2 separate regions of the Homo sapiens genome follow, and region 2 is linked to region 1. Evidence: fine-mapped expression QTL. A gene starts in region 1. The other region holds a variant in brackets. All regions are shown on one strand. Distances are from middle to middle.

The links. PIP is the estimated chance that this variant, and not a neighbour inherited with it, causes the effect.
Region 2: its variant is fine-mapped to the expression of COLGALT2 in cerebellum (GTEx, PIP above 0.99). The same link has a PIP of 0.9 or more in adrenal gland, esophagus muscle, fibroblasts, hypothalamus, lung and putamen.

Annotation. Positions count from the first base shown.
Region 1 is chr1:184,030,071-184,045,330 of GRCh38, reverse strand. It overlaps COLGALT2 (collagen beta(1-O)galactosyltransferase 2), which reads left to right and starts at 7,603. Exons shown (of 12, transcript NM_015101.4): 1 at 7,603-8,236. The coding sequence starts at 7,974. RefSeq lists silencers at 7,791-7,880, 13,622-13,916.
Region 2 is chr1:183,957,609-183,972,868 of GRCh38, reverse strand. It overlaps COLGALT2 (collagen beta(1-O)galactosyltransferase 2), which reads left to right. Exons shown (of 12, transcript NM_015101.4): 5 at 3,396-3,600; 6 at 8,849-8,968. Among named protein-coding and RNA genes, the nearest start is that of COLGALT2, 72 kb to the left of the region's middle. The variant T/C (reference allele first, on the strand shown) is at 6,172.

The sequences.
Region 1 (15,260 bases):
CATGTTAAAATATATCTTACGGCTTATTTACCTTGCTTAAATGTCCCTCCCTGCTTTCTTCTATTCCTCTCTCCTTCTCCCTCTCTCTGTCCTTTCTTCCTTCTTTCCTTCCTTCTTCTCCTCCCCATCTAAAACATCCAGTACAACATTAAACAGACGTAATGAGATCTGACATTCTTATCTTGTTTCTGATCACAGGAGGAACACTCAGTCTTTCACCATTAAGGATGATGTTAGCTGGGGGCTTTTTGTAGATGCTGTTTATTACGTTGAGGAAGTTCCCTTCTATTCCTATATACTGAGAATTTTTATGAGGAATTCATGTTGGATTCATAAATGCTTTCTCTGCATTTCTTGAGATGATCATATGATTTTTCAAGTTTGTTAATAAATCACATGGATTGACTTTTTCTTATTTTCTTATTGTGGTAAAATACATATAACAAAAAATTTACTATTTTAAGTGGTATTAAATACATTCATAATGTTGTGCAACTATTACTCATATCCATCTCCATGACTCTTTTATCTTTAAAACTGAAACATATACCCATTAAACAATAACTCCCCATTTCCCCTACCCCCATCCCCTTGGCAACCACCATTCTATTTTGTCTCTGTAATTTTGACTAACTACCTTATATAAGTTGAATCATACAATATTTGCCTTTAAAAATTGGCTTATTTCACTTAGCATAATGCCCTCAAAGTTAACATGTTGTAGCATATGTCAGAATTTCCTCCCTTCTTGAGACTGAATACTATTCCACTGTATGTATATACCACATTTTGCTTTTCCATTCACTAATCAATAGGCACCTGGTTTGCTTCCATATTTTAGCTATTGTGAATAATGCCACTGTGAACATGGGTGCACAAATATCTCTTTGAGACTTTGCTTTCAATTTGTTTGGGTATATAGCTAGAAGTAGAAGTGTTAGATTATATGGTAATTATATTTTTAATTTCTTGAACTGTCATACTGTTTTCCACAGCAGCTGTACCATTTTACATTCCCACCAACAGTGCACAATGTTCCAATTTTTCTACACCCTTGCCAACATTTGTTATTTTCTGTGTTTTTCTAGTAGCCATCCTAATGAGTGTGAAGTGATAAATCTTATAGTTTTGAATTGCATTTCCTAAGGATTAGTGATGTTGAGAAACTTTTCATGTGCTTATGGCCATTTGTATATCTTCTTTGGAGAAATGTTTATTCAAAGTCCTTTGCCCATTTTAAAGAAATGATTATATATAAAATTGTATAAAACCGTATAATTTTCTAGCTTTCTCTGTTACTACTTCCCATCCTATCTCCCAGCCATGCCCTGTTCATTGTATCTCTCAAGTGTGTCATACTGTTTCATTCCTTGCTCCTGCAGTTCCATCTACCTGGAATTCCCATCTCTTTCCCCTTCTGTCTTCCTTTTCTTAGTCCATGCTACTCATTTTTCTTTTCTTATATTTCGAATCAAATTATATTTTTTTCAGCTTTTAAGTTCAGCAGTACATGTGCAGATTTGTTACATAGGTAAACTTGTTTCATGGGGGTTTTTGATACAGAGTATTTCATTACCCAGGTATTTAACCTAGTACCCATTACTTATTTTTCCTGATCCTCTCTCTCCTCCCACCTTCCATGCTCCAATACGCCCCAGTTTGTGTTGTTCCCCTCTATGTGTCCATGTGTTCTCATCATTTAGTTCCCACTTATAAGTGAGAACATGTGGTATTTGGTTTTCTGTTCCTGCATTGGTTTGCTTAAGGATAATGGCATCCAGCTCCATCCATGTCCCTGTAAAAGACATTATCTCATTCTTTTTTATGGCTGCATAGTATTCTATGATGTGTATGCACCACATTTTGTTTACCCAGTCTATCATTGATGGGCATTTAGGTTGATTCCATGTCTTCATTATTGTGAGTAGTGCTGCAATGAACATACACGTGCATGTGTCTTTATGATAGAATGATTTATATTCCTTTGGGTATATAACCAGTAATGGGATTACCTGATCGATGGTCTTTAGGACTTTGAGGAATTGCCACACTGTCTTCTACAATGGTTCAACTAATTTACACTCCCACCAACAGTGTATAAGCGTTTTTTTTTTCTCCACAACCTTGCCAGCATGTTATTTCTTGACTTTTTAGTAGCCATTCCGATGGTGTGAGATGGTATCTCATTGTGGTTATCCTATAATTCTCAGCCTATCACAGCTGCCCCAGAGGCATTTATTTCCTCCTCTTCTTCGCTGTGGTTTTTACTTGAACTTCTCCAATAATCAATGATGTTGAGCTTTCCTTCATATGATTGTTGTCCACATCTATACCTTCTTTTGAAAAGTATCTGTTCGTGTCCTTTGCCCACTTTTTAATGGAGTTGTTTGGTTTTTCCCTCTTGTAAATTTGCTTAAGTTCCTTTTAGATACTGGATATTAGACCCTTGTCAGATGCATAGTTTGCAAAATTTTTCTCCCATTCTGTAAGTTGTCTGATTACTCTATTGATAGTTTCTTTTGCTATGCAGGAGCTCAGTTAATTAGATCCCATTTGTCAATTTTTGTTTTTGTTGCAATTGTTTTTCACATCTTCTTCATGAAATCGTTGCCAGTGCTCATGTCCTGAATGATATTGCCAAGGTTGTATTCTAGGGTTTTTAGAGTTTTGGGTTTTACATTTACATTTATAAGCCATCTTGAGTCAATTTTTGTATCTGGTGTAAGGAAAGGGTCCAGTTTCAAGCTTCTGTGTATGGCTAGCCGATTATACCAGCACCATTTATTGAATAGAGAATCCTTTCCCCATTGCTTGTTATTGTCAGGTTTGTCAAAGATCAGGTAGCTGTAGGTGTGCAGTCTTATTTCTGGGTTCTCTGTTCTGTTCCATTGGTCTATGTGTCTGTTTTTGTACTAGGATCATGCTGTTTTGGTTACTCTAGCCCTGTAGTATAGTTTGAAGTTGGGTAGCGTGATGCCTTCAGCTTTTTTCTTTTTGCTTAGGATTGCCTTGACTATTTAGCCTCTTTTTTGTTCCATATGAATTTTAAAATAGTTTTTTTCTAGTTCTGTGAAAAATCTCAATGGTAGTTTAGGAATAGCATTGAATCTGTAAATTGCTTTGGGTAGTATGGCCATTTTAAAAATATTAATTCTTCCTGTCCATGCATGCTACTTATTTTTCAATGCTCAATTCAAAGACATCTCTTTAATTAAACATTTCCTAGCTATCTCCACTTCCCCACTTCCTTACTTATGCTCCTTTTTCCATCATAAGACATAAAATGACTTATAGCATTTGTGCATTTATATGACACATCTTATTTATTCATGCATTTCCAGCAACTATATCTTGGCACAGAGTAGGCATTGAGCAAGTGTTTGAAGGAATGAGTTAATATAATTTAAGGGATGCATCTATTCTTAAATGAGACGTAGAAGTGTAGTTTACATTTGTATAAACTTGTTTTGAATTGGAAAACATTCCTCCGTAGTGACTATTCTATAGCTCTTGGATGCAGCCAGAGCATAGACAAAACTTTGACACTGACGTAGTTTAATTTTAGCCTTTCCCACCTCAGTCACTGCTCTTTTTCTCCCTTAATATTAATTCCCTTCCTAGGACCCAGAGTCCTCGGGCCTACGTATCAGAAATCCATAAAACTTGCTTTGTCACCAAAGAGACCCATGCTTCAAATTAGGATCCCATTCAGTTCCCTTTATCAAAACTTCTTATAGGCCATTTCAGTTTAGGTGATAAGATTTAAAAATCTGATTGAATTAAAAAGATATCATCTAATGCTCCTCTCTCAAGGATTTTCATGTTGAAATTGGCAGAATTGTCAATTCAAGTACATTTTACATTGTAGGATTTTAGGATGGATCAGAAAAGCGAGTAAAACAAACCAGGTAGTGAAAGAAAGATATTTCAGTACAGAAGAAAGAAGCCTGGATAATTCAGCCAAGAGACTCTTTCTGCCAACTATGGCCCAGCAGGACTTACGAGGGGCTGGCCACTTTCTCCCTGTTTTTCCAAGGGAGAAGCATTCAAATATTCAACACTCAAATGATTGGCATTTAGCAATTTCATAAATGTTTGTTGAATGAAAAAATGAGGCAAGCATTTAAAACTTTTTTACCTAGGAAGGAATTGATGTTCAAAGAGGTCAAGTTTCCAAGGTCACAAAGAGAATAAGTGACACCAGTGAAATGAAAATTCAGCTCCAAGTGTCAGTTGCTCTTTCAAGCCTATCACAGCTGCCCCAGAGGCATTTATTTCCTCCTCTTCTGGGCTGCTGGAGCCACAGACATCTTGAGAAGCTTTCCTGCAAGAAGTCCTCTGGCCACCTCATAGGCCCTGTCCCCACCACATTGCACTAAGGGTGACAGTCCAAGAGGTTTTGTTGTCCCAGATGGAAGTCCCCTGTGCTGGAACAGTATGGGGAGGGGATATGAGAGAAAGTGCTTACTTCTAACTTTATGTAGAATCAATTGGAACAGTCTACTGGCAGTGGAGACAAAGAGATATGTGTGTACAACCCTGACTTTCCATTCAGCCGATTTTCCATGGAAAGAGCATTATAAGCAATGAATATTTTAAAATATAATTGGCTTTTATTTTTAAATTAGTTTTTTTTTTCAAATTAACTGTCTTATAACATCAATCCTATGCGGGGGGGAAACATCCAAATTCACATTACTGATTTCTGAAGAACTTATGAAACAAATCTGTTAGTAAGATGGGGACTTAATTTTTCCCAGGCTTCCCCTCCACTGCCTCCCAACCATATTTACAATGATCTTCTACTGTTGCATACCCTGTTATTACCTTAATATTCTCAGTCACTAAATGAGCACTCAATTAAAAGTTTTAAATAGGTGTTTTGTAGGTTATGTGGCTGGGAAACCCTTGATTTCATCTACAGAGCAGAGCAGGTTGTAGTTATTTTAAGAGAACTCCATGGAGCCGATTTCATTATAATGTCATTAGAGACCATACAGGTTTAGATGCTTCACCTTTCTTTGAAAAAATAGACTCAGATAAGCTGTTGACTTTAGGTAACTGTATTAGTCTGTCCTCACGCTGTGAATAAAGACATAGCTGAGATTGGGTAATTTATAAAGAAAAAGAAGTTTAGTGGACTCACAGTTCCACATAGCTGGGGAGGCCTCACAATCATGGCAGAAGGCAAAGGAGGAGCAAAGACACACCTTACATGGCGGCAGGCAAGGGAGCATGTGCAGGGGAACTGCCCTTTATAAAACCATCAGATCTTGTGAGGCTTATTCACTATCACGAGACTAGCATGGGAAAAACCTGCCCCCATGATTCAATTACGTCCCACGACACGTGGGGATTATGGGAGCTATAATTCGATGTGAGATTTGGGTGAGGACATAGGCAGACCATATCAGTAACAGAAGGAAAATAAGACAGAAATGTGGTTGCCTAGCTTTAAACTCCCTCTGTTTGCAGTAAAGTGAACAAATGATAACTATCAAACCAAGTTTGGCTAAGGAGTGCGGATTTTAGTATTGAAAGATGAGTGGGACATAGTTCAAGAAAGGGAAACAAGAAAGACAGAACAACATGGAGATTGTCTGGACCTTTCTAACAGTCCCATCACTACCTCCCTTGTGGAAATGACCACATCTTCCTCTATCCCTTCACTGTAGCTGGTACATCTGTTACAGTACTTCTAACAGATGTTTAACTCTCAGTCTTCCCTACAAGACTGTGAGCCCCTTGAAAGTGGGAACAATTCCTGAAAATGGATGGAGGGGAAGGAAATGTCTGTAGGCCATTCGATAAAAAAATATGAAGATTAGAGAAGAGATTAGAGCAGAAGACATAGATTTTGAGGATATAACCACAGGAGACCATATGGAGTGGGAAGACTAGCACACTATAGGGAGGCACACAGTGAAGGGGCTTGGCTCAGAGACAAGTAGTATCAGAGGAGATCTAGGATGGGAGATTATGTAATCGAAGTCCAGGAAGGTGAGAACGGAAGAGTTTACTGAATCTGCCAATGCTGAGGCCATCTGTTGGTTTTGCAGAACAGTGGGGAGGGCTGACGCCTTACTGCACTGTGGTGGGAAAGATGGGAGATGAAGAAGTGGAGAATACAAGTATAGATCTCTCTTCCAAGGAGCTTGGTCAAGCAAAGGGATGACTAGAAGAAGACACAGGACTTTTTTTTAAAGCTTTTCTTTCTTTTTTTTTTAACGGATAAGAGAAGACTGACCAAGTATTTAGCTTGAGAGAAAGGAGTTGATAGAGATCAGTTGAAGATTCAGTAGAGAGTGGAATGATAGAGAAAAATCATGGGCTAGAAAGGGAGACCTCTCCCTTTCTAGTCTGTGATCAAAGACCCTGTCGTGAGGAGGCACCTGCAAGTAAGAAAGGTCTTGGTAGGGATGCTAGTTGGAGACAGTGGTGTTGGGGGAGCTGGATGAAGGAGGTGATATACTTCAAAAGACAGTAGGGAAGACTTCTAATAGTTGCTGAGAAGGATTGATAACAACTAATAAAAAGACTATGGGACAGACCTGAGGGTGAGTTGGGATTGGAGATCATGAATGTGCACTGGCACCAAAACACCCTCCATACTTATCTATCAAAGGCTACACAATATATCTTCAAAACTAAATATCCAGCCGAGCATGGTGGCTGATGCCTGTAATCGTAACACTTTGGGAGGCCGAGTTGGGCAGATCACTTGAGCCCAGGAGTTCCAGACCAGCCTGGGCAAAATGGTGAAAACCCGTCTCTACAAAAAAAAAAAAAAAAAAAAAAATTAGCTAGGCGTGGTGATGGACACCTGTGGTCCCAGCTACTCGGGAGGCTGAGGTGGGAGGATTGCTTGAGCCCAGGAGGTCGAGGCTGCAGTGAATTGTGATCGTGCCTCTGCACTCCAGCCCCGGCAACAGAGTGAGGCCCTGTCTCAAAAAAAAAAAAAAAAAAAAAGTAAATCTCCTTTAGCAGTGTATGCCAGCAGTTTCATTTTATGTGCTAATTGTGTTCTTCCTTCACCCCTTCTTTTCTTCCTTATCTCTTCTCTGCTCTCCAACATGCGCGAATTTTCCCTCTTTGTTACTCTATCATATTGGCTTATTACGGAAAAAGAAAACCAGCTAAGTGAATTTATTCTTTCACAGCCCTCCTGTGAGGAGGCTTACTGGGTTCACAGTAGAGTGAGGCTTCAGGACAGTGTCTCCCAAGGGCTTTCTTTTATTTTGCGGGGTCTGATCTGGCTCCAAAATTCTCCAAGTCTTCAAACTTTGTGTTATTAGGTGTCTACTCAGTCAAGAATGAATTTCAGAAGTTGAGTATATAAGAAAATGCGACATGCTGCCTTTGCGGTGGTTAAACAAGTGTTTGTCATAATCGTGAATAGTTGGGGAGACTTTTCATTTTAGAACTCTACTCAGTCAATAGGTGCATTATGAAAACTGGATACATTGCATCACTGTGAAGGGCTTCAGTCTGCGGTTTGCAAAAGCAGAATAAATTTTCTTGGGGTTGTACCGTTATGTACACACACACACACACACACACACACACACACACACACTCACAGGCTCATTGGCAGACAGGGCCACAACTCGCGGCTCTAGGGAAGGCCACAGACCTCAGCTGTACGAGCGGAACCTGGACTAGAGGAACTTTCCTCAGGACTCAGGGCACACAGCCCCTCGGCCACTACTGTCTGCGAGCCCGAGGCGCAGGGGAGCGCCAGCGGCTGCAGGTACGCTGCGCACCCGCACTGGGGCCTGGGCGGTGCAGCGGCGGCGGGAGGGTCCTGGGAACCGCAGCCGCCGAGGCCAGTGTGTGAGCCGGCCGGCCGCGGCAAGCCGCATCCCCCGGCCGCCCCTCGCAGCCCCTTGCTCCCCGGCAGCCGCCGCCGCCCTCAGGCAGCCCAGCCGGGCGCTCGCGCCAGGACTTCCCCGCCGCCCGCCTCGGCCCGGAACATGGCTGCGCGCCCTGCTGCCACCCTCGCCTGGTCGCTACTGCTCCTCTCCTCAGCCCTGCTCCGCGAAGGCTGCCGAGCGCGCTTCGTCGCCGAGCGGGACTCGGAGGACGACGGAGAGGAGCCGGTGGTTTTCCCGGAGTCGCCCCTGCAGAGCCCCACGGTGCTCGTGGCGGTCCTCGCCCGCAACGCGGCGCACACGCTGCCGCACTTCCTCGGCTGCCTGGAGCGGCTGGACTACCCCAAGAGCAGGATGGCCATCTGGTGAGCGCGCACGGGCCCCGGGCCGCCGCGGCGGGACGCGGGGGCGGCCTGCCCAGCGCGGACAGCGCCCGGAGCAGCAGCTGCAGGGCGAGGGAGCCGCTGGAGGGGCGGGGGGGCACGCGGAAAATCTGGCGCACACACCCCCTCGCTGCCCGCGCCGGTGGCTGGCGGATCGGGCGGTCAGGCTGCGGAGGGACGCGCGGGTCAGTGTGCGCAGAGGGTGCTGATGGGGAGAACCGGACCGCTGGAGCTCTGGAGGGTAGCCTGCGAATTGGGGCTTTGTCCCACAAGGGGCATGGGGGACACCCCTCAAGGGGACTTTCAGTTCCCTCGCTTTTAACTCTCGAGGTTTCCTCTTTCCCCACCTCATACTGCTAGCCCTGACGTGAGGGGATAGGGTGCCTGTCGCCGTATTCCCATGTAGATACGACAGATGGAACGTAACTGCGGTTGGCCAGGGGCTCCGCAGTGGCTGGGGCGCCGCAGTGCGCTGCTCTGACTTTCCGGTGCCGGGCTCCTGCTCCAGGCTGGAAATGTGCTCCTAGCTCTCCTAGGGGGACCTGGACCTAGGGGTGGAGATTGGGCGGAGCCCGCGGAGTGTGCCCAACCATGGCACCACCGTGGGCCTGGTCTCCTGCGAGCGCTCCGGGCTGTCCCTGCCGGTGCATCGGGGTTCCACGTCCCGGGGAGAGACGAAGATGCCCTGGGAAAGATAAACAGCCAAGTTTTGTCCCCGGAGGAAAGAAGCTTGGACCTGGTCCCTGTGTCTGCTGCGGGGAGGGCCAGGGGATAAGTGCGGGTGCCTGCCCGCCCCACCTTGTAGAACTTGGTCGTCTCGCACCTTTTATAAACGCGAGGATCCGAGGGCGAGAAGTTAGTTGGTGGCCAGGTTAGCCGCTGAGTGGGTTGTGGAGGACAAGGAGGTGGATGCTGGCCAGGGGAGATGTGCTGTCAGGTAGGTACTCGGACAAGAAGACTCTGGCCCCCTGAGGAAGACAGAGCCCAGGTCACTCTGGAGCAATTTCTGTCTTGTGTTGATAAAGGGAGCTGTTCTCAGGCGAGACACATCCTTAAAGCAGCGGTTGGGCAAAGAGAGGAAGAGGAGTAAAAGCAGCAGCTAGAATTGGCAGCCTCAGAGTACCTGGTGGGAGAGGTGCAAAGGTGCGAAAGCAAACATGTGATATAGTACAGCTCTGTGCTGTACACTGCTTTACTATATACCCTGCCATACGTGACCGCCTGGCGGAGAAGGGCATATTATGTGGAAAGAGAGCACTGGGACAGCCAGGCTTTAAACCAGAAGGAAGGATTTTTTTTTAACCACTTCGGTACCAAAAGAAATTCACACATATCAGTTACCTTAGTTGTTGTGTTTTTTTTAAGAGATATTTTAAAATATGGTTTTGATCTTTATGCATGATTTAGTTTTTTAAAACGTTACAGTATTTACCATAAGAAGTTGGTGAGTGGTGAAGCAGGTGTCAGGCACATGCTTTGCTACCTGATTTAGAGACATTACCTCTTTTTATCATACAGTAAACTTTTAAGAGGATGCTATGATGTTTATTTTGCAAAGAAAGAGACAGACTTGCATCAGTTCAGTAAGTCACTTAAAGTGACAGAATTAATAAATGGTGAAACTGGAATTTGAACCCAAGGCCACCCTAAAAAGGCAGGAAACATGATATAAACAAAATTTACATAAGCCTATAATCTACAAATTAGGAGACTTGAGTTGTTTATTACTAGTTTGATATGTGATTTGGGGCTGGTTGCTTGGGATCCATAGGCATCAGTTGCCTCATCAATAAAACGAGGGAGTTGGAATAAATGATTTCAAAAATTCTTTATGGCTCTTGAATTCCATAGATTTTGCAATATAATTAGGATCAACCAGCATCAATGTACATCCTAAGTTCCCTGTAAGTTCCAGATGGTATGGACACTGGTGTCTTACTTAGATGAGAGAATTCCAGTTCTGCATAGACCTTTGAAATCTGTTGTCTTTTATGTCCAGCATTGGCAGGTTAAGCAAGAAGTGCAAGGCCATGCTTGCGTCAGTCATTGAAGACTCTTCTTTGAAAAATTTTGGTTCTGTCTTTAAAACATTGTGTAATTCTTTAGGTAACAATAATACAAATCCCAGTTTCTAAATAGTTCTTTTCAGCTCACAAAGGAGCTGTAAAGAACCTTTGGAAATAACTTCCATGCACTGTTAACTCATTTGATTCTTACTGCCATTCTGTGAAGAAATAAAATTATCTCTATTTCCCAGAAGAAGAAATGTGTTTAAAGTGATTGACTTACTCAAAATTACATTTATTTATAAATTCCACACATAATAATAAGAGCTCGTGGTTCTTCTAAGAACTTCACATTCATTTTCTGGTTTAAGCTTCAAAATGACCCTATCAGATATGCACTGTTATTATACCACTTTACAGGTGAGAGAACTGAGGTACAGAGAGGCTGTACAAGCATATTCTTCTAATGCATTTTTTAAAATAAGAACCAGCCAGATCAGGGCTGAAAAAAAGTGTATTTAGATATGTGTGTTTTTTTACAGATAAATATGATTCATTTTACTGGGCAGTGTAAGGTGATCTGAATGGCTTTTAAAGGGTTTGGGGAAGAACCAAATGATTTATAAATCAGATTGGGGCAGTTGTATGGATATGGATGTCTTCTTGATGAGTGGACACTTAGTTTGAACTCAGTTTTGAAGGAAGAGTAAAAATCAACTAAAACCTGGGAAAGAAGGATGGCTCTAGAAAAAGGGATCAGCAAGGCAAAAAACAAGCAAAAAAAAAAAAAAAGATAATAGGGCATCAACCAGAGTTTTCTCTCAGGGAGTTCAAGTGGGTGGCAGGTCTAATGACTGCAAGTCTCCAAACAGATTGTATTGTACCATAGAATCTCTTTGGAAGTGCTGACTTCTGGTCTGGCCCTAGGGGAATATTTGGCTGGGAAGCTTATGAGATATAACACTCTGATGGGAGGTGGTACCTCAGTTTAGGATGTTACAGATTTGAGGTGCTTCTACCGATTGCTTGCCTCTAGTTTCTCATTCCCAAGCTCTATGCAACATTCCAAGATGCCAAACTGATTAGTATCCATTCTGCAAAGCCAGCACATGCTGATGTCAAAAATGGCTGTGAGCTACCCAGAACTTTGTAAAATAGAACCGCAGTGAATACAGAGCCACACAGAATTCAGCTTCCTCTGAATCTGACCACAATAACTCACTCTGTGCAGACTCACTCTTCTCATTCATCCACTCACAGGCTAGAGGAGCATCTGATTTCTGTCCCAGATGGGTCAGTGAGAGACCTGGCTTATTGATCACATTCAGACTCCCCTGTTATGTGATAATTTTTCTCACTTTAAGTTCTGGACCAGATCTGCACTGCACATACAGATGAAATGAGTATCATCAAATTGACCTGGAAGATACTGTTGTTGAAGAATGTCTGCAGTTATCTCAGTCAGCATCAAGTTTATTCAGATTAGTCTGAACAAAGGAAAATTTATATTTTAGAGATACTTTGTATAAGCAAAAAGGAAAGCTTTTTACATTTACCTGTCTGATCTCAAAATCCACCAAGCTAATTGTTTTCCTTCAAATATCACAATCCTGTGATAAGGACCTAAGGAAGATATCTATTTCATGTGTCCTAAAACCTGCACTAAGTTTTAGGGAATTGGGAATATGCTGAGATGAAGGGAACTGTGAGGCATTGTGACAAGTGGTAGTGTACTTCAGTGGGTTCTCCTTAATTCAGTGGAACCATGAGCAAGTAGCCTTAGCAACAGAGGGAAGGCTGACCTCATCCTCCTTAAACCTATGATTAGGGAGAGTGGGGCCAAGTACCATGACAGTGAAAACCGAAGCATGGCGCAGGGAAAAACATTTGCCCCAAATGAAACATTAAGTTTTTCTTTTGGAGAGCCTGCTGTTGCTTGTGGGAAGACAGTTGGGATTCACAGAGTCTGTGCAGGCACAAGGCAGTAACTGCTATGTAATTACAGAAAGATTTGGGCATTTTGTTTGGCAGAGTTTTGAAAAGTAACATACTAAATTGGGAACCGCTTTATGGATTTTTAAATAAAGAGAGGAGCTTCTGTTGACATAAACATAAACAGTGATGAGCTGGGGGATGGTCCTAACATTTTGCATACTACTTTATTTCTGCATTGTTTGGGGATTATCTTGAATTTATCTCCACATTTTAATGTCCAATCAGTAGCATTTTCATAATTGTTTAACTAGAAATACTAATATACTTTGTGTTTATAAACTGTTCCAAACTAGTATCAGTGACATTTTTCAGCACCAGTGGTAAGAATGATGTCATATTTTATCATTACACTCTTGATATTAAATGTTGTATGTTATCCCTACAGATAGAAGTTTCGGTTTATGGCTGAAAAAGCAGATGATGCCTTAGGCCCCTTCTGTCTGTTAGTCTGTTTTCCTCACCTTTTTCCTCCTTTCCTCATTTTCCCAATCTGGTAGTTTAGCGTGGAGGGCATCAACCAGAGTTGGAGGAAGAAATATACAAGCTTAGGGTCAGATAGACTAGAGCATAAATCTTCTGTGTGATTGTGGGCACATCAGTAAACCTCTAAGACATAGCTGCCTTATCTTCAAATAACTAATAGTAACACCTGTCTCAAAGAGTTATTGTTACAAGTAAATGATATAAGGTATGCACAGTGTCTTTTACATAAATGCTACTAACAATGATAGTTGCTATTTCTTTTGAATCTTTTCCTTTTTCTCCTATCTCCTTTACCTTTACCTTTCAAAATCAAGATTTTAAAAAATCTTCAAATGGAAATTTGTTTAGTTTCTTCTTTCCAACAACAACAAAAAATATTAGTATAGGAAACTAACATTTATCTGGATGCAGTGGCTCATGCCTGTAATCCTAGCACTTTGGGGGGCCGAGGTGGGCAGATTTCTTAAGCCAAGGAGTTCAAGACCAGCCTGGGCAACATGGTGAAACTCCATCTCTACAAGAAATGTAAAAATCATCCAGGCACGATGGCATGCACCTATAGTCCCAGCTACTTGGGAGACTGTGGGTGGATTGCTTGAACCTAGGAGGTGGAGGTTGCAGCAAGCCGAGATTGAGCCACTGTGCTTCTTCCTGGGCAACACAGCGAGACCCTGTCTCAAAAGAAAAGAAAAAGGAAAAGGTAAGGGAAGGGAAAAATAAAGAACTAAGGAAGGAAGGAAGGAAGGAAGGAAGGAAGGAAGGAAGGAAGGAAGGATACATTCATGGAGGCACTGTTCTAGACACTTTGGTATCAAAACTGATTTACTCCAGACAACAACCCTAGGTGGGAGATGCCATTACATTCTACTCTATCACTTTACACAGAAGGAAACCGAGGCACAGAGAATATAAATAACTTGCCTGAGGTCACTAGGCTAATGCATGGTGGAGCCAGGATGTGACCCAGGCAGCTAATGTTGCAGACCGAGTACAGATGGTCTGCTTAAGATTGTGAAAAGACCAATTAGTTCTAGTTTTTGCTTCTGTCGGTTGACCCAACTTGGGAAGATAAGAACGCTAGTGTTTCTTTCAAATAAGAATTGTCATTTCCACTTGAATGATGCAAGGGTCTTAGTGGTTCTCTTCCGCTGTCTTGATAATTTCATCACTTAGTTCAGGCACTTTTTAGTGAACTCTAATCTGTTTTGGTATATTTCATAGGGACAGATTATGACTAAAATGTGGGTTGTACATAAATATGCAGGTCACTTGCTGTGATCATAGCTACATAACAGTAGAAAGAAATTTCTCAAGTATTATTAGTGGCAAATGATTAAGGTGGCACTAATCATACACGTATTGGCTACATTTTCAGTTCATATTGGTAAAATAGAGATTCCATTTTTCAGGCTTTTTAATCAGTAGTCTTAGATTTGGTTGTCCCCTAAATTCAGCTTCATTCCAAATGATTGAAGAAATTATCAATCCTCCCTGCAACCTCCAATTTCAAAATATGATTGGAGCTCAGAATATTTCCTCTGGGTAAAAACTGAAGTGACTAATAAATGACACCAATCCTGTTGTTCCAGTTATGACAGCTTAACTACAGAATTAGTAAGAATGCCTAAGTTGCCCTGGTTTTATTATATTGAGTTCCATGATGAGGCATCTAAAGCACAGGGCAGTTAAGAGATTCCCATGGTGATTATGGAATGAGATAACTGATTTCTAGATTTTTAATCCTGTGTAGCTGTTTTAATGCTGATTATTTTATAATGAATATCCTTCTTGGTTTAAAGGAGCATGGGGAGTATTTTAAGCAGAGTTTGGTTTTCTCAGATCTGTTTTTAGCTCCTTTATCCAAGTGATTAGGCCAGGGAGTTTCTTTGTGACTCCAAATACATAAGCATGTGCTTCTTAGGTTCCTTTTGCTTGTCTGTTTCTGGTGGTCATAGGAATGAACAATGAATGCCTTGTAACTGAGAAGGCTGCTGGTTGTCTCTTGGTTCTTTTTCCAACACTTAAACGTGCACTTGGGTCATATTGCTGTGTGGCACCGTCTCCAAGTCTATGGCACAGTATAGTAGGACCATTATAAGGCTTATATAGGACTATAGTAGGACAATAATAAGGCTTGTTTCTGCATATTTCTTGACATAGCATAACAACATACAGTAAAGTCTGAAAGAAAATCATTAGCCTATGGTATGGCCACTACACCTATTCCCCAGTTACCATATCATGAAGAACTTTTACCATATGTGTTTAAATTATAGCTATTATTCATCAGGAATTACAAAACGTATGTATTCTATGTTTTGACATTTTTATTTCAAAAGAGTGACTTGTTCATTTAATTGCATTTAATTGATATGTTGTTAGCATATCAAAAATTGTTAGTTTTTAAAAATTTGAATCCCTTAGGGTCTTTATGGATTTTTAATAGTACTTCAGTTATTTTAAGAATTTGCTCTTCTGACTTTTTTAAATGGGAAAGTAATAAAAAAAGTATGATTGGGAAT
Region 2 (15,260 bases), 72 kb after region 1:
AATTAGCCAGGCGTGGTGTTGGGCGCCTATAGTCCCAGCTACTCGGAAGGCTGAGGCAGGAGAATGGCGTGAACTTGGGAGGCGGAGCTTGCAGTGAGCCGAGGTCGCGCCACTGCGCTCCAGCCTGGGTGACAGAGCGAGACTCCCTCTCAAAAAAGAAAAAAAAAAAAAAAGTACAAATATTTCAATGACCTTCGATGTATGTTGCCAAATTTATTTCCAAAGAGTTCTAATAATGAAAACTACCATGGTAGGTTATTTTTATAAAATTCAAGTTAAAAAAGGTTTGATTTTTTATTATTTCTTTTTTTCATAGTAAAATCTTCAAAATAGTGGTCTGTTTTAGTGAATGCTCATGGCTGGTTATATTTTTTATTCTTTAATTAAAGAATTAGATAAATTCAACTGATTAATGTAATATGTATCAATGTAGGATAAAAATGTGCTAAGCAAAATATGTTGGCCAGGAGCAGTGTCTCATGCCTGTAATTTCAACACTTTGGGAAGCTGAGGTAGGACAATTACTTGAACCCAGGAGTTTGAGACCAACATGAGCAACATGGCGAAACCACATCTCTACAACAAATCAAAAAATTAACCAGTTGTGGTGTCGTGCACACCTATAGTTCCATCTATTCGGGAGGCTGAGCAGGGAGTATTGCTTGAGCCCAAGAAGTTGAGGCTGCAGTGAGCTATGATCACACCACTGCACTGCAGCCTAAGCAACTGAGACCCTGTCTCAAAAAAAGAGGGAGTATGTTCAATGTATTCTCATGGCCAAAGGGCTAAAGTTTGAGTCTCCCCTTTATATTTGGTTTTGTTTTGGATGAGAAATAAGGTCAGTAGTGTGCTGATAAATGTTTAATAACTGGCTCTTTGTGGGAAAAACCCTAGTTGGTAGCATTGCCAATTTTTATGGTTTAAATACTCCCACCATGCAAACAGCTTAAATGTTGTTAAGCTAAGGGAAAGGTTAAGTAAACTGCAGTATAGCCACTTGATGATACAGCTATTAAAAACATGTAAAACTGCCACATGAGGTGTCATTAGAGTGGTGGGGATTAACGTGATTTTTGTTTTTATGGATTCCAAGCTATCAACATGTCAACTGGTTTGCAAACTTTCTGAAAATTTAACAATGTGTGGTCCAGTACACCACTGGATGAAGCATTCCTCTTTTGTTGTAATTATTTCTTCTAGCTGTAAGAGATTTTGAATGCGTGCTATTTTCTGTGTCTCTTTTGGGAAGGTAATATGTTCATATTTCTAACAGCCATTCACTTCCTTGGGAGAAAACATTATATTGGTTTAAATTCATACATTTTCAGTGTTTCACATGGCAGAATCACTTGAGGGTTGTTTTTAATGAGTTGTGCTTTGACATCAGCAACAAGGGTGGGTTATCCTAGTGGCCGCAGCCTACAAATTTGTATTATCTCCTTATTTACTTTCAGGCTTAAAAGCAAATAGGAGAAATGTGCTCACTTGTTTTGTACAGTAAAACTAAATTCTGAGCAACTTAGGGACAAGTATTATTTTCCTCCATTTATTTTTGGCTTTCTACCATCCCAGTTAGTCTCTACTAGAGCAGGAATAGAAAGGGCCAGTGACTTCATAAATTCAAAGCAGGACCTGGTTCCCAGAGCCTTTAAACTCATTCAAAACAAAATGTCCTTGATGTTGTCTGGCCAATGAACAGGAATTATTACCAACAAGATTCAATTTATGTGGAAAAAGGAACACATTCATCATCTCTGCCTCTTTGCAGGAGGCACATTTATTCTCCCTCACTCTCCCTGCTTCCTTCCTTCTCACCCCCACCCCAAGGATATTCAGTGATTCATCATCATCATGGATTTTCCAAGCTAATCATTCTGGGAATATTGTTCCTAAGTAATCTAGAACTTTATATTAGACGCAAGTACTTAGGCAGCCCTTTAAAAAACCCGAGTCCCCTTTATCTCTTGGAAGACTGCTCATAAGCTGAAGTATTAGGAAAACCATAGAGGATGTTAAATGATCCTTAAGTTAAAGGCTAATAAAAACATTATAGTAATGATAATACTTCATATAATGAATTGCAGTTCCCAAAATAGGTTCATAGACCTTATCACATGTGATTCATTCTGCAGCTCTATGAGATTGACAGAGCAGCTGTTATCCCATTTTTCAGGAGAAAAAACTCAGGCTCAAAGAGGGTAGGCATGGACTAAGATCAAACGGCTAGAAGGTGATTAAGATGACTCTGAGACCCACATCTTCTGAGTCCTCATTTTTGATCCTCCTCCCTTATCATGGGGTCGGCATTAGGGTTAGCTCAGCTAGGACACTCTTCTAGAACCTGAAGGGAATGTCAGAGAAGTAGGTGAGGCTGTAGCACCTTATGTGTGGATGCTGAATTACAACAGGAAATGTAACCATGAAGTGATGCAACTGATTAATGAACACATAAGAACTTCCAGAGTATGGTGCCCTTCGGAGTGCTGGCTTTGCAAAACTTAACACTCATTCCAGTGAGCCTGCCATCACCTAGAACATTTTCCAAAATGCCTGGCAAAGCTTCCACAAGTATGTTTTGTAAGCATGTTTTGTTGAGATATATCTTCATCTTTTCTGGAAATGATTCAAGCTTTGGAATAAGGAAATTGGTTGTCCTGTGTGCTTGTGCAGAAGGACGTTTCAGAAGCTGAATCCCCAAAAACTATGGAGCAGCTGCAGCTTCACCAGAATATTGACTAAGTAACTGCATTGAAAGAAGACCCTCATTTGTATATCTAAGTAATGCATGTTTAATTACAAATATTAGCCACAGTGTAATGTCATTTTAATAGGAGCCGGTATTTGCTGATACATTCTTGGTGCTGGGCAGTAGTCTCAACACTATTCAGGTTCTACCTTACTTAAATTTTACAGCTAACCCCATGGAGTAGATAGTGCCGTCATCCCTGTTTTAGAGATGAGGAAATAAGCGCAGCAAGGTTGAGTCACTTGACCCATACCTACAGACAATAAGTAGCTGAGGTAGGATTTGAACTCAGGGAGTCTGACACTGGAACCTGTGCCCTTAACTGCTCTGCCACTTCTTAATACTCATGCTTCATATTTAATCATAAGTCAACATAAAATACACTTTTATGAAATTATTAAATCTAGAGATATGCTGAAATAAAAGTTACTTCTTATATCAAGACCCTTTTAGTATTATTTTATATGTAGACAGCATTTCTTGTGCTCACTTGGAAATTCATAGGCCATGATAAGAGGAGTGAAGGTGGCTTTGTTTGGGAGCTTGTATATAGCTGGTAATGACTTGAAAGGAATCAGTCTAGCAAATGACTGAGAAGGATGAAGACTTCAAATCAGAAAACACAACCCACCTATTTGCTCTTTTACAGGGCTTCTATAAGAGGACCCCAGACTACGTTCAGATTCGAGAATGGAAGAGGACAGGCTGCTTCCCCGTCCCCATGGTCCACTCCACCTTCCTAATTGACCTCAGGAAGGAGGCCTCGGACAAGCTGACTTTCTACCCCCCACACCAGGACTACACCTGGACCTTTGATGACATCATTGTCTTTGCCTTCTCCAGCAGGCAAGCAGGTACTGTTTGTCTTTGGTTGTAGTGCCACAATGGAGACACAGCAAAATGACCAGCTCCTTTGTTTTGTGCATTTTATTAAAAAAAAAAACCCTCATATGTCTGGTAGTGAGAGGCAGTAAATTGTCTGCAATAACCATACCAGCACCCTCTATGTTGCTGTCCCTGGGAGCACCAATGACCAAGAGCCAGGGCTGGCCTCTACCCAGGAACCCACTCTATTTTGAGTTGGAGGGACTGGTGGTGATATTGGGAATTATGGGAAGGTGATTGCTTCTCTGTGGTGCTACTGCATTGCAATTGTTTATTATAGAAGTTCATTTATTAATTAGGAAACTGTCACAGAGGCCTAAAACAACACTGGCAAAGACCCCAGACTTTAAAAATGGAAGTTTATTTCTTCTTGAAAAAGTCTGAGCTGCTGTAGTGGCTTTGTTCCACAAAGTGTTCAGAGTCCCAGGCTTCTTGTGTATTGCTTCTCACACTCCACGAGGTACTGCCCTTAATTGTGGAGTCCCAGGTGTCTCACCACCATGGATGCGTTTCAGCCAGCAAGGCAGAAACAACAGGGAGAACTCTCCCTGTCCCTTGAAGTGTGCAATCCAGAAGTTGAATGCAGTACTTCCATGCAAATCCTGTTAGCTAGAGCTTAGTCACAGGACAATACCTCACTGTAAGGGAGGCTCAGAATGTCGTCTTTATTCTCTGCATGCATGCACTGCAATTTTCACACTCTAGAAGAAGGAAAGAACAGATAAAGAGGCACCGAACAGTCTCAGCCTCAGTCCCTGTGGAAGGAGAGGCAAAGCGAGACTGAGGTCTTTTATGAACCACTGGGAAAGCATTTCTAGTGGGGCCTGGAGATTTTTGAGAAAGACAAGTCAACAGGAAGGAAAGTTATTTCTCTCATTTCACCCTACACTTGCTTCAGGAGGACAAAATTCACAAGAGCAGTTCAACAGCAAGACACATGGCATCTAACAGAGCAAAGCTTTGTTAGGATAATTCAGACTTTCCTGACAGAAGTTGGGTCCCATTATTAATGTGCCAGAAATGTGTCACTTAACCACTAGCAAAAATACGTTCATAAACCAAGAAGATGGTGAATAAACTCACTGTGGCCATATAACTGAGGGTGGAAAAGATGGTGCAAAGATCCTCCGGCAGCTGAGGAAGTGGCTGGCAGATGAGAATGTTAATACAAATTCAAGCTACAATTCACACATCAGACTCTCCTTAAAGCCATAGATGTCCCACTCATCAGTTGTAGATTTGCTGAGAATAAGAATATTTGGTAGAAATGGGTCAGGCTGATTTCCCCCTTGGCTGCTGGAGCAATTTAGACCCTTTGGCCAGGTGTAGGCATTTTGTAGCCCTTATGTCTAGGCAAAAGCAATCCTCATATGATTGGAAGATTTTTGTAAAGATTCCTATGTCAGTGTTAATGGAAACTCCTTCTTTCAGTTGGTCTGTGATTTGCTCTGACTTCCCCAGGATGGGAAGCAAAGTCAGGGCTTTTTGAGTCCTTTGAGTGCCAATCCCTTTCCTTCAGAGGTTGAAGTTAGGATGTTCCAAGAAAGTGAGATATTAACAATTACACGAATGACACTGCCTAACAGAGTCCTCCTTTATAGTCACTGCACAAAGCATTATTATGATGCAATGAACTAAATTATTATGATACATTGTATGAAACCAATACCTGGATATTGGTATGGGAAAAATGATTCAGGTTAAGCAGGAATTTTTCAGCTCTGCCCTGTGCTTGGCCTGTTCACCAGGATTTTGTGTGTTATTGGTCAGACTTTGAAAAGGCTTTTTTAGAACATTGAAAGCAGGTAGACACCCAAAGTTGTTTGGTGACTCATTTGGGAAGAGGAGATAGAAAAGGAAAGAGAGAGGATGAACTCCCAAGTGTTTCCTTCTGTTCCTGGCACGGTGTTAGTTGGGAGTTAAGATTTTTACATGTGAAAACACAACTAATAGTCATGAAGCAGTGAAAGCTAAGGGCCAGACTGGCGGTGCAGACCATGAACAGGGCAGGAGTCAAGGCAGGAAAGATTCACTGTCATTTTGGGGAAATGAAAGGTCTTTCTTGACAACTGTGGATTTTAAGGTAATATTGTACTTATCTCTAAGTATTTTCAAGAGAAACATGAATGAGCCTGGGAGTCATGTGCAGCCCAGGGCATGTCTCCAGGCTCTTCCTTCCTTAGTTTCAAAGCAAAGCACTTTCCTCTTTCTTCATGAAATATGATTGGTATTCTTTTGTTCTCACTCTTCTGAAGCTCCCTAGCTGTGTATCATCTATGTCCCAGGCAGGACCATCCAACCACAAACCTTGGTCCTAAATCTTTCACCCCAGACTCTAGCCATTGCCCCATGTGGGTGATGAGTGAGGAGCAATCCAAGTGTGCTGGTGAGCAGGGCTTGGCCACCCTTCTAGCCCAAGAAGAGAGCACATATGGTCATAGGCGCGTCTCTGTTCCTGTAATGAGTCCAGGGTCAAGAGTTCACCTCCCATTGTGGCCAGTGATCTGGGTTCTGTATCATGGCCACAGGAATCATCCCAG[T/C]GCCAGCCAGTCGTCTTCCAAATGTCTGATGTGAGTCAAAAGAGGTGAGTGATATGGGCAATGGGCAGACAGATCCTGAACACCACTGGTAGTGATCAAATTTGTCCCCTTGTGGAGGGATGGCAATCCCCTAGTGACTAATGGTCTTGGAACTGAGCTTCCAATTACTGACTGGGTAGAAAGCACTTGGCATTGGCTCTTTAGGGACAAAGATTTGGCACTAATGACTTACTATGTGACCTTGGACAAGTGACAGCCTGAATCTGATTTTTCATCACCAAAGATAGGGATAATTACATCAATCTGCAATGTTAAGGTACTATATGAGTACAAGAAAATGTTTAATATGTTTAAAAGAAAAACAGTCCTTCAAAATGTAGCGTAATTCACTTCTCTTTTTCAAAAGAAAAATTGTCTTCCCCAGAAGCAGCATTCACTGGGAGTGCAGACTCTTTCATAGACTTTATCTAATTATTAATACATTTTCTTTTAAATTTTCTGTTATCAAACTGCCCATGCACATGGTTGAAAGTATTCATATAGTTCCCCATGGTTTATTAAGAAATGAACAGTCCCCTGCACATCACCCTGCATCACTTCTGTCCTCCAGAAGGCAACCACTTTTATCTCTAATATTTACTTCCATGTTAAATAATATGCATGCATTGCTACTTCTTGATTTTCTGGCTTCACCGTGGGCATTATTTGTTGACTCTCCACTATAGACTGTGAGGAGTTAGCTCTTTTTCTTCCTTTTTGCCCTCTGCATGCAAACACATTCTTCTCATCACCCTGTTCTCCCATTGTAATTTCAAACAGATTGATGGTCAGTGTTCTTGTTGTAATCATGCAAGCCTAACTCCAAGCTTGGTCATTCATAGGCTATGATTAGTTTTCCTTTGCCATTCTTTGGAGGCAATTCCTTTAATAATTGCCTTTTTTGCTTAGTTTTATTATTACTAGTATGATCCAAAACTAATCACTAATTACCTCAAACTCCTCTCAGAATGTCCAGATTTGTCAGATGTCCTTTTTTGCATATTTGCGAAGACGTCTGTTCTGGAGCTTTCTAATATATTCTAATCCAAGTGGTGCTGAAGCTATCAACCTAAGACTTATTTCTCTTCTCTTATACACTGACTCTCCTGTTCATGTTGTTTATAATCTTTCTTGTTGGTTATAATCGTCCTCCTCTTCTTCCTCCTCCTCCTCTTCCTTCCTTTCCTCCTCGTCCTTCTCTCACATCATCCAGCAGCTTTCTGAGAAAGTATGATGGCAAGTAAATATATTATGGTCTTGCATGTCTAAAAATGCCTTCCTTGTACCCTCACACTTGATGGATAATTTGGATAGGTATCATATCATTTTTTTATGGAAGCCTCAGAAAGTTAAATGGTAAAATGGTTTGCCTAATTAGGGTAGAGATGCAACTTTAATATATTTTTCCTTCCACTTCCTGAATTCATCATGACTTTACAAGAAGGTGCACTTTGAAGCTCCCCAGAAGCATTCATATGGGCAAACAGCAGAGCTAATGAGTTTGCTCGGTGAAGGCAAGAGAAGGGACAGTGCTTGGTAGACCAGCCTTGATTCAAGCCAGATTCAGTAAAAGCAGGGAATAAAGGTTATTTTCTTTTCTCCTTCCTCTCTGTTAATGCCATGAGACAGCTTCACCTGATTTGACAGATGATGTAGCTGACTGGAGGAAATTTCATCTGCACAAAATAGAGGAGTCCCTATGCAGATAATTATCTCTCTGGAAAACACTGACAATTATCGCAATTAACAAATCACAGGCTTGGATACATGGACCAGAGGCTTGGATACATGGCGGACTCATCCTTTTCACTAAGCAGTCTTATCATTGATCAGGAGTGTCAATTGCTGACCAATGATGTGTATGAGACCATCCTGATTCCTATATTTCTAGCTGTCTGGTTAAACACAGATGCCTTATAACTCTGCAAGTTATCAGGTGGGGCTATGAAGAACAATTTGAATATGAGAAGGGTATTGCATACTTCTGGTATTGTCACACTACAGGTTCTTAACAGGACATTCTGAAATGCAGACTCTTTTGTCTCTATATGAACTGATTTTGGAAGTTTCATGTCTGTTGGTTGGCTCCAAATCCATGCCTGCTAAGGGAAGCAATAAAACCAGGGAGAATCTTGGAGAATTTTAAATTTCCTTCGTTTTTTCGTTTTTTTGTTCTATGTATGCCTAGATTTAGCTTTAATAATCTGTCAGCGTTACAGAATTTTCCTGTTTGCTTTCATATCAAATGTGGATTTCATTCCTCATTTTCTTGTTATTTCCTGTAGGTGGATTACAGTGTTCCATTCTGCTCTCCAGAATGGGAATTCCTTGCCTCCCTTTTGATCCTTTCATGCCTTTTTTGTTCATTCCAGGCCATGAGTTTGCTTTTTCTTCAGAGGGAAAAAATCAATTTCCTCTGGGCTGAAGAATAGCCGAGTGTTTTTATTAGTCCCCAATGCTGTGTTTTACTTTTTTAATAAAGGAGCATTTTTTAGGTCTATAGACATACCTGAAACAACCACTTATTTAATTGCAGTGTCAAACTCAGCATCAGACACAGTTCAGGTTCCTTCTCCTCGCTTGTCACTCAGCAGTATGTTTTCTGATTGTTGGCTTTGTCCCTCTCTTGGATCCTCAGGCATCCAGATGTACCTCTGCAACAGAGAGCACTATGGCTACCTGCCCATCCCCCTGAAGCCCCATCAGACACTGCAGGAAGACATCGAGAACCTCATCCATGTGCAGATTGAAGCAATGAGTGAGTGACCCAGGAGCAGAGGGGATGGCTCTCGTTCCATTGCCACAGTGACCATACCAGCCACTTCCCTCCTCTTCCAGGATTGGAATCTCACAGCCATCAGTCTCCCCTGGCTGAATACATAGCTATTTATTTGTTCATTCTTTCCTAAATTTTTCCTATGGGAAATATGAATATGACAAGGTCTTTGCCATGTGGGAGCTTCCCATCCTGGAAGAGCGCTGGGTACACAAGTAAATACTTTCCAAAAGATCTGATAAGTGCTATAATAGTGTTTTGTGGTGTGGACTTAAACCCTAACTTGGCTGCTTTCTAATTATATGACTTTGAGCAAGTAATATCCTTAGTTGTAAAATGGAAATAATGAAAACTTCCAGGGTTTTTGGGCAGATTCATTATGGTATATGTAAAAAGGCTAATACAGCCACAGTAGTTATGACTTTAACTTAATAATAGCTCATGATGTAACAGATATCACTGTTACATCATAAAATGCTAAGCACTTTTTGTACATTAAAGTGTACAAAACTGTTTCATTGTTGTTTCATTAATCCTTGCAACAATTCAATGAAGGGTTTTTATTATGCCCATATTAAAGATGAAAAACAATGAGATGTTACCTTAAGTAACTTGCCCTAGATCATTCTGCTAAACAAATGACAGATTGGGATTTGAACCCATCTTGCTATCTCCAAAGTTCATGTCCTTAAACACTATTGTTATTGCCTCTGGGTCTGGCATGATGCATGAATTGCTGTGCTCAGTCATCAGTAGCTATGCTTTTTATTATGTGTGATGTACAATGGTGGCTAAAAGAGAAAGTAACCAATCCACCTAACCTAGGGGAAGATGTTGAAATGGCTTCCCAAAGCAGGGACTATTTTCTGTTATTCATCAGTAGAGCACGGGGGTGTGAACGTGGGCAGTGGAGGTGGTTAGGGAGGAACAGCAGAAACTGAGGCTAGAAAGTGGGCAGGAGCCCCGCCAAGAGGCTCTGATGTATAAGAAGGCATTTGGGCTTCAGCTGAAAGGACAGGCACGCTCAAAAAGATTTTAGCACAGAAATGTCAGGTTGAATTTGGATTTAGAAAGGTCACTCTACAGGTAAGAAAAGTGTAGGTGGAGCATGCATGGGATGCATGGGCAGTGGCTGCTGGTCTCAGGCCAGGGGTGAAGAGACCACTTTGGACATTTCACGGCTACTGGGCAAAAGGTGGTGAGGACCTGAGCTAGAGCAGTAACAGTGGGAATGGAGAGGAAGGAACAGAAGCTTAGGACATAGGCTTGAAAGGACATAGCCAAGAGTTGATTGTAGGTAGATGAGCAAAAGGGAGGCATAGAGAAAACTCCCAAGTTCTGTCTTGAGTGTCTGGGGGTGATTTTAGGAACTTTAAATGGAATAGGGCATGTAGCATAAAGGAGAGGTTTGAAAAGAGAGACCATGGCTGGCATGGTGGCTCATGGCTGTAATCCCAGCACTTTAGGAGGCTGAGGCAGGTGGATCACCTGAGGTCAGGAGTTCAAGATCAGCCTGGCCAACATGGTGAAACCTGTCTCTACTAAAAATACAAAAATAAGCTGGGCATGGTAGTGCACATCTGTAGTCCCAGTTACTCGGAAGGCTGAGGCAGGAGAATTGCTTGAACCCAGGAGGCAGAGGTTGCAGTGAGCCAAGATCGCGCCATTGCACTCCAGCCTGAGTGACAGAGTGAGACTCCATCTCAAAAAAAAAAAAAAAAAAAAAAAGAAAGAGAAAAAGAAAAGAAAAGAAAACAGAGACCATGAGTTTATTTTTAGATCCATTGAGTTGTCTATGAGTATCTGCTTCCCACTCCCTTGCTCCTACACTATAAATTCCTTTTTCATCATATTAGTCTCAGGACCTAGCACATTGTCTGTCACGTGGTAGATGCCCAGCAAATATTTGTTAAATGACTGAATGAATGATGATGAAATGATGAAATAAGGAGCTGGTTCACTGTGACAGTATTTCTTGAACCAGCCCTCAGGAATCTCCTTTGCGAATTTCTTTAATACATACTTTTTCTGCCACTTTCCCTATGTTCTAGGCCCTAAAGGATATGGGTGGCATCTTATTGCTTTGTATTCCAAGCACCTAGCACAGTGCGTGGCATGTAGTTGTTACCAAAAAAAATCTGCTGAATGCATGAACAAATGAGCAAATGAATGAATGAAAACTGTATTGACAAGGGCACTGAACCCAAAGCGAGAATAATGGGCTTGAACTTAGACACTGTCGCTTTTGAAGGGAGAATCAGATTTCAGGACTTCAGTTTCTTCATCTATAGAGTGATTTTGCAATGTTGAGAAGAGCAAATAAAAGACTATATCAACTCCATAAAATAATGAGGTGTTGCTATTATTATGACTCCATTTACCTCTCGATAAAGTGCTGTCCCTTATTATCCCTGTTTCATGGCTCTCGGTCTCGACTCCCAAGTAGGGAGAGTCTCTCTGGCCTCAGAGAGAGGCCAGCCAGACCTTATGTTCTCTTGTTTTCTCCCACAGGGCTGAGAGTATAAGCTCTCAGTACACAGAAATGCACGTGTCATCAATAAAGATTTTAATGATTGTAAATTACAAATATGCACACTACCATGCTAGCCAGGTAGAGTTCATTTGAGAAGAACCTGTAAATTATAGCTTTCATCATTGATCTCCCAACACATGCCACCTCTAGTGCTAAGCACTTTACATATCGCATTTTATTTCATTCTTATACTTACCTTCTGTCCTGAATTCTAAAAATATAGAACACAATAGGAGTAAGAAAATGTTGGAAAAATAAAATTTTGAGGTGTATAATGAAGAAATATGGCCTAGAAGTCCGTGTAAGATTGATAAAAAGTTGGTAATGACAAAATCCTATCAGTCAAGTATCCTTCTCTAATAAAAGATTAACTAGGTGTTAAAAACACTTTGCATAGTGCCTAGAACCCAATAAGCAGTAAATAAATGGCTGCTAATAGTGTTGTTAGACTATACTGATTGAAGAATAGGAACGGGGTGTCCAATATTTTGACTTCCCTGGGCCACACTGGAAGAAGAAAGATTGTCTTGGGCCACACATAAAATATACTAACACAACAATAGCTGATGAGCTAAAAAAAAAATCACAAAAAGAATCACATAGCGTTTTAAGAAAGTTTACAAATTTGTATTGGGTCACATTCAGAGCAATCCTGGGCCACATGTGGCCTGCGGGCCATGGTTGAACAAGCTTGCATTAGTATATGCATTTTGTTCATGAGCAAACATAGAATGCCTGTAATGTATGCGTCTTCTCTGAAGGTACTAGGGATTCAAAACATTTTATGATCAATTCTCTGTTTTCAGGTATGTATGATTTAATAGGAGAAACAGACAGATGTTAAAAAAACACTAACAACACAGTATAGCATTTTGAGAAAGGAGAAAATATCAAAGAAATAGGAATTTGGGATAGAGAGAGATTGCTATGGCCTGTGTGATCCAGGAGAGCCTCAAGTCCTAATCGTTCTTAGGCTAAGCTTGGGTACAAGTGTAAAATTTAAACAAGAAGAGTGGTATGGTGAGGACACTACAGGCAGAGGAAACAGACCAAGAAAAGACGAAGTATTCTCATGCTGAAGGAGAGCTGACTTAAAACAGTAGGCAGAAATAAAGTTCGAGAGGGTGGAGTGGCTTCATTGTTGTAGTCCTTGAATTCTTCTTCAGCTAAAGAAGAATTCCTATCTTAAGGAGCCAATGAAGGTGTTAGAAGAGATAATCAGGCTGTAAGGATTTATTCAACACATACTGTACCCCGCAGATTGTTCAAGATGCTGGGCATAAAGCAGTGAACAAAACAGGCAGAAGCCCTGCCATCAGGGAACTTATATTCTAACACAGAGAGTTAGACAATAGACAATATATCTGGGAAGCAGCCATATGAATATTTGGGTGAAGAATGTCTCAAGTGGAAAGAACAGCACATGTAAAGACTGTTAGACAGGAAAAGCTTGGGGGTGTTCCAGGGACAAAAGGCCAGCATGATTGGGGCATAAAGAATGAGTTGGGTCAAGGGAGATGAAGTAATGGAAGAAGAAATGTCCAGATCACACCGAACATTCTGGCCATGGTAAGGAATTTAGATTTTACTCCAAGAGTAATGGGAATCCGTGGAAGATGGGGTGGGGCAGAGGGGGCATGGCCTGAAGTGACTTGTGCATTTAGAAGGATCATTTGGGCTGTGGTGAGGATACTAGATTGTAGGGGACCAGTACCTCTCTCCTGGTGGGACATGATGGTGATTGGGATGTGAGCTCTAGCAAGGAGTTGATGAGAAACAGACAGGTTGAGGATATATTTTGGTGGTGGAGCAACAGGACTTACAGAGACCTGAATGCAGTCCATGAAGGAAAGAAAGGAATCAAGATGAGTCCAAGATTTTAGCCTGATATGCCATTTACTGAGATGGGAAAGACTTTATAGAAAAAGACTGGGGGTTGGGGAGCTAGTTTTGGTCACGTAAGTTTAAGATATTTAATAGGCATCTAAATAGAAAGGCAGAAGATAGTTGGATATATAAGTCTGGAGTTCAGGGAAGAAACTCCAGCTAGAGACAGATATTTGAGAATCATCAGCATCAGAAGGATATTTGAAGCTGTGGAACAGTCTGAACTCATGTAGTAAAAGAACACAGGATGAGAAGAGGACAGATCCCTGGGGAAGACAAAACAGCCAGAGAGCTAGGAGGAAAAATTGAGAAGTGTTTCAAGACGGAGCCAAGATGCTGCTGAGAAGCCAAGGAAAATAAGGATAAAGAATTGGTCATTGGTTCTGTCAAGAGAGAGGTCTGTGATGACCTTGACATGGGCCACTTCAGTGCAATGATGAGAACACAAATCCATTCAAGTGGACTGAAGAGAAGCCAATGGGGAGATGAGAAAGCTGAATCTTGATGGGATGGGGAAATGGAGAAATCCGATGGAGGCTGTTGGGGGTAAGAGGTCAAGGGAAAGGTTTTTCTGGTTAGGTTGTTTGTACTGTTTTTTTAAAAAAATAGAAATATAACAGTATGTTTTATGCCAGTCACAAGGATCCAGTATATAAGGAGATCTTGATGATGTAAAAGAGAAGGTAATTATAAGGTGAAAACAAGAGGGTTTTTGTCCTGGGTTGCAGCCCAGAACAATATTGCAGAGGCTATACTAGATAGAAACTTCATCTACTGTGGCAGATGGGATGGCAGAATGTATTGATACACATGCAGTTTGGTTTGTGGACTTGAGGTGGATTGAAAAGGTAGATCTAATTTGATTTTGAATATTTTCTTTCTGAAGTATATAGGCCAGTCAGTCATGAGCTAGACAGAGATTTTGGAGATTTTAGGAGAGAGAAGACAAAAGATACAATCTCTCAAAGAGTGGGAAAATAAATTTACTATGAAAGGACACTTACATCATTTGGTGGTGTCAAGTGCCAATTTGACATCTGTGATTGTAGCTTTGAAGTGACTCAGTCAACACAATTGTGTATGTTTCTCCCAGTAGTCCTCTTGGTGCTGAGTAAGTGGGCAATGGGTTTAACCAGGATTAGGGTTTTATCAGGCATCAGTGGACGAGAATTGAAAATCTTGTGAAGGGGATGGTCAGGGAATTTCTGAATTGTAGACTGGAGTTTTAGAAATCAGAGTTGAAGAATTTGAGTGAGGTGGGAGAAGGGTTATGACGACAATGACTAACACTTATTAAAAGCACTGTGCCCATCTCTTTTCATGTGATAACTCATTTAGTACATTAGAAGCTGCACAGAGAATTTGGGGATGTGCTGCCTTCGGGAGATGAATGACAGGAGGCCAGATCTTATAAAGATGTTAGATTTAAATGGTCTATAAAGCATGAGGAGATTACTCTTGCAAATTACAGCATAAGGTGATAGGAAGTCTCAGGTACCTGCTCTCAGTATTGACATTTTGAGACAACAGTACATCATGTAAAAATTATTAAGATAATTGGACTTGAAGTTATGTCTAAAACTGAGTTCCAGCTCTGCCAATCACTCAGTATTTGACCTTGGACAAGTCTACATCTGGCTTGGTCTCAGTTTCTTTATTTGTAAAAAAAAAAAAAAAAAAAAAACCACCACAAAAAAGTGAAGATAAAATTACATGGTGACTATGAAAACACCTAGCAACCTGTTAAGCCCTTAAATATAGTGTTGAGTGTGACTGTTACAGTTGAGAACAGAGCTGTGCGGCGGAAGATTATTTTGACAACAGTGAGCATGATTAATTAGAATAGGAAAGACT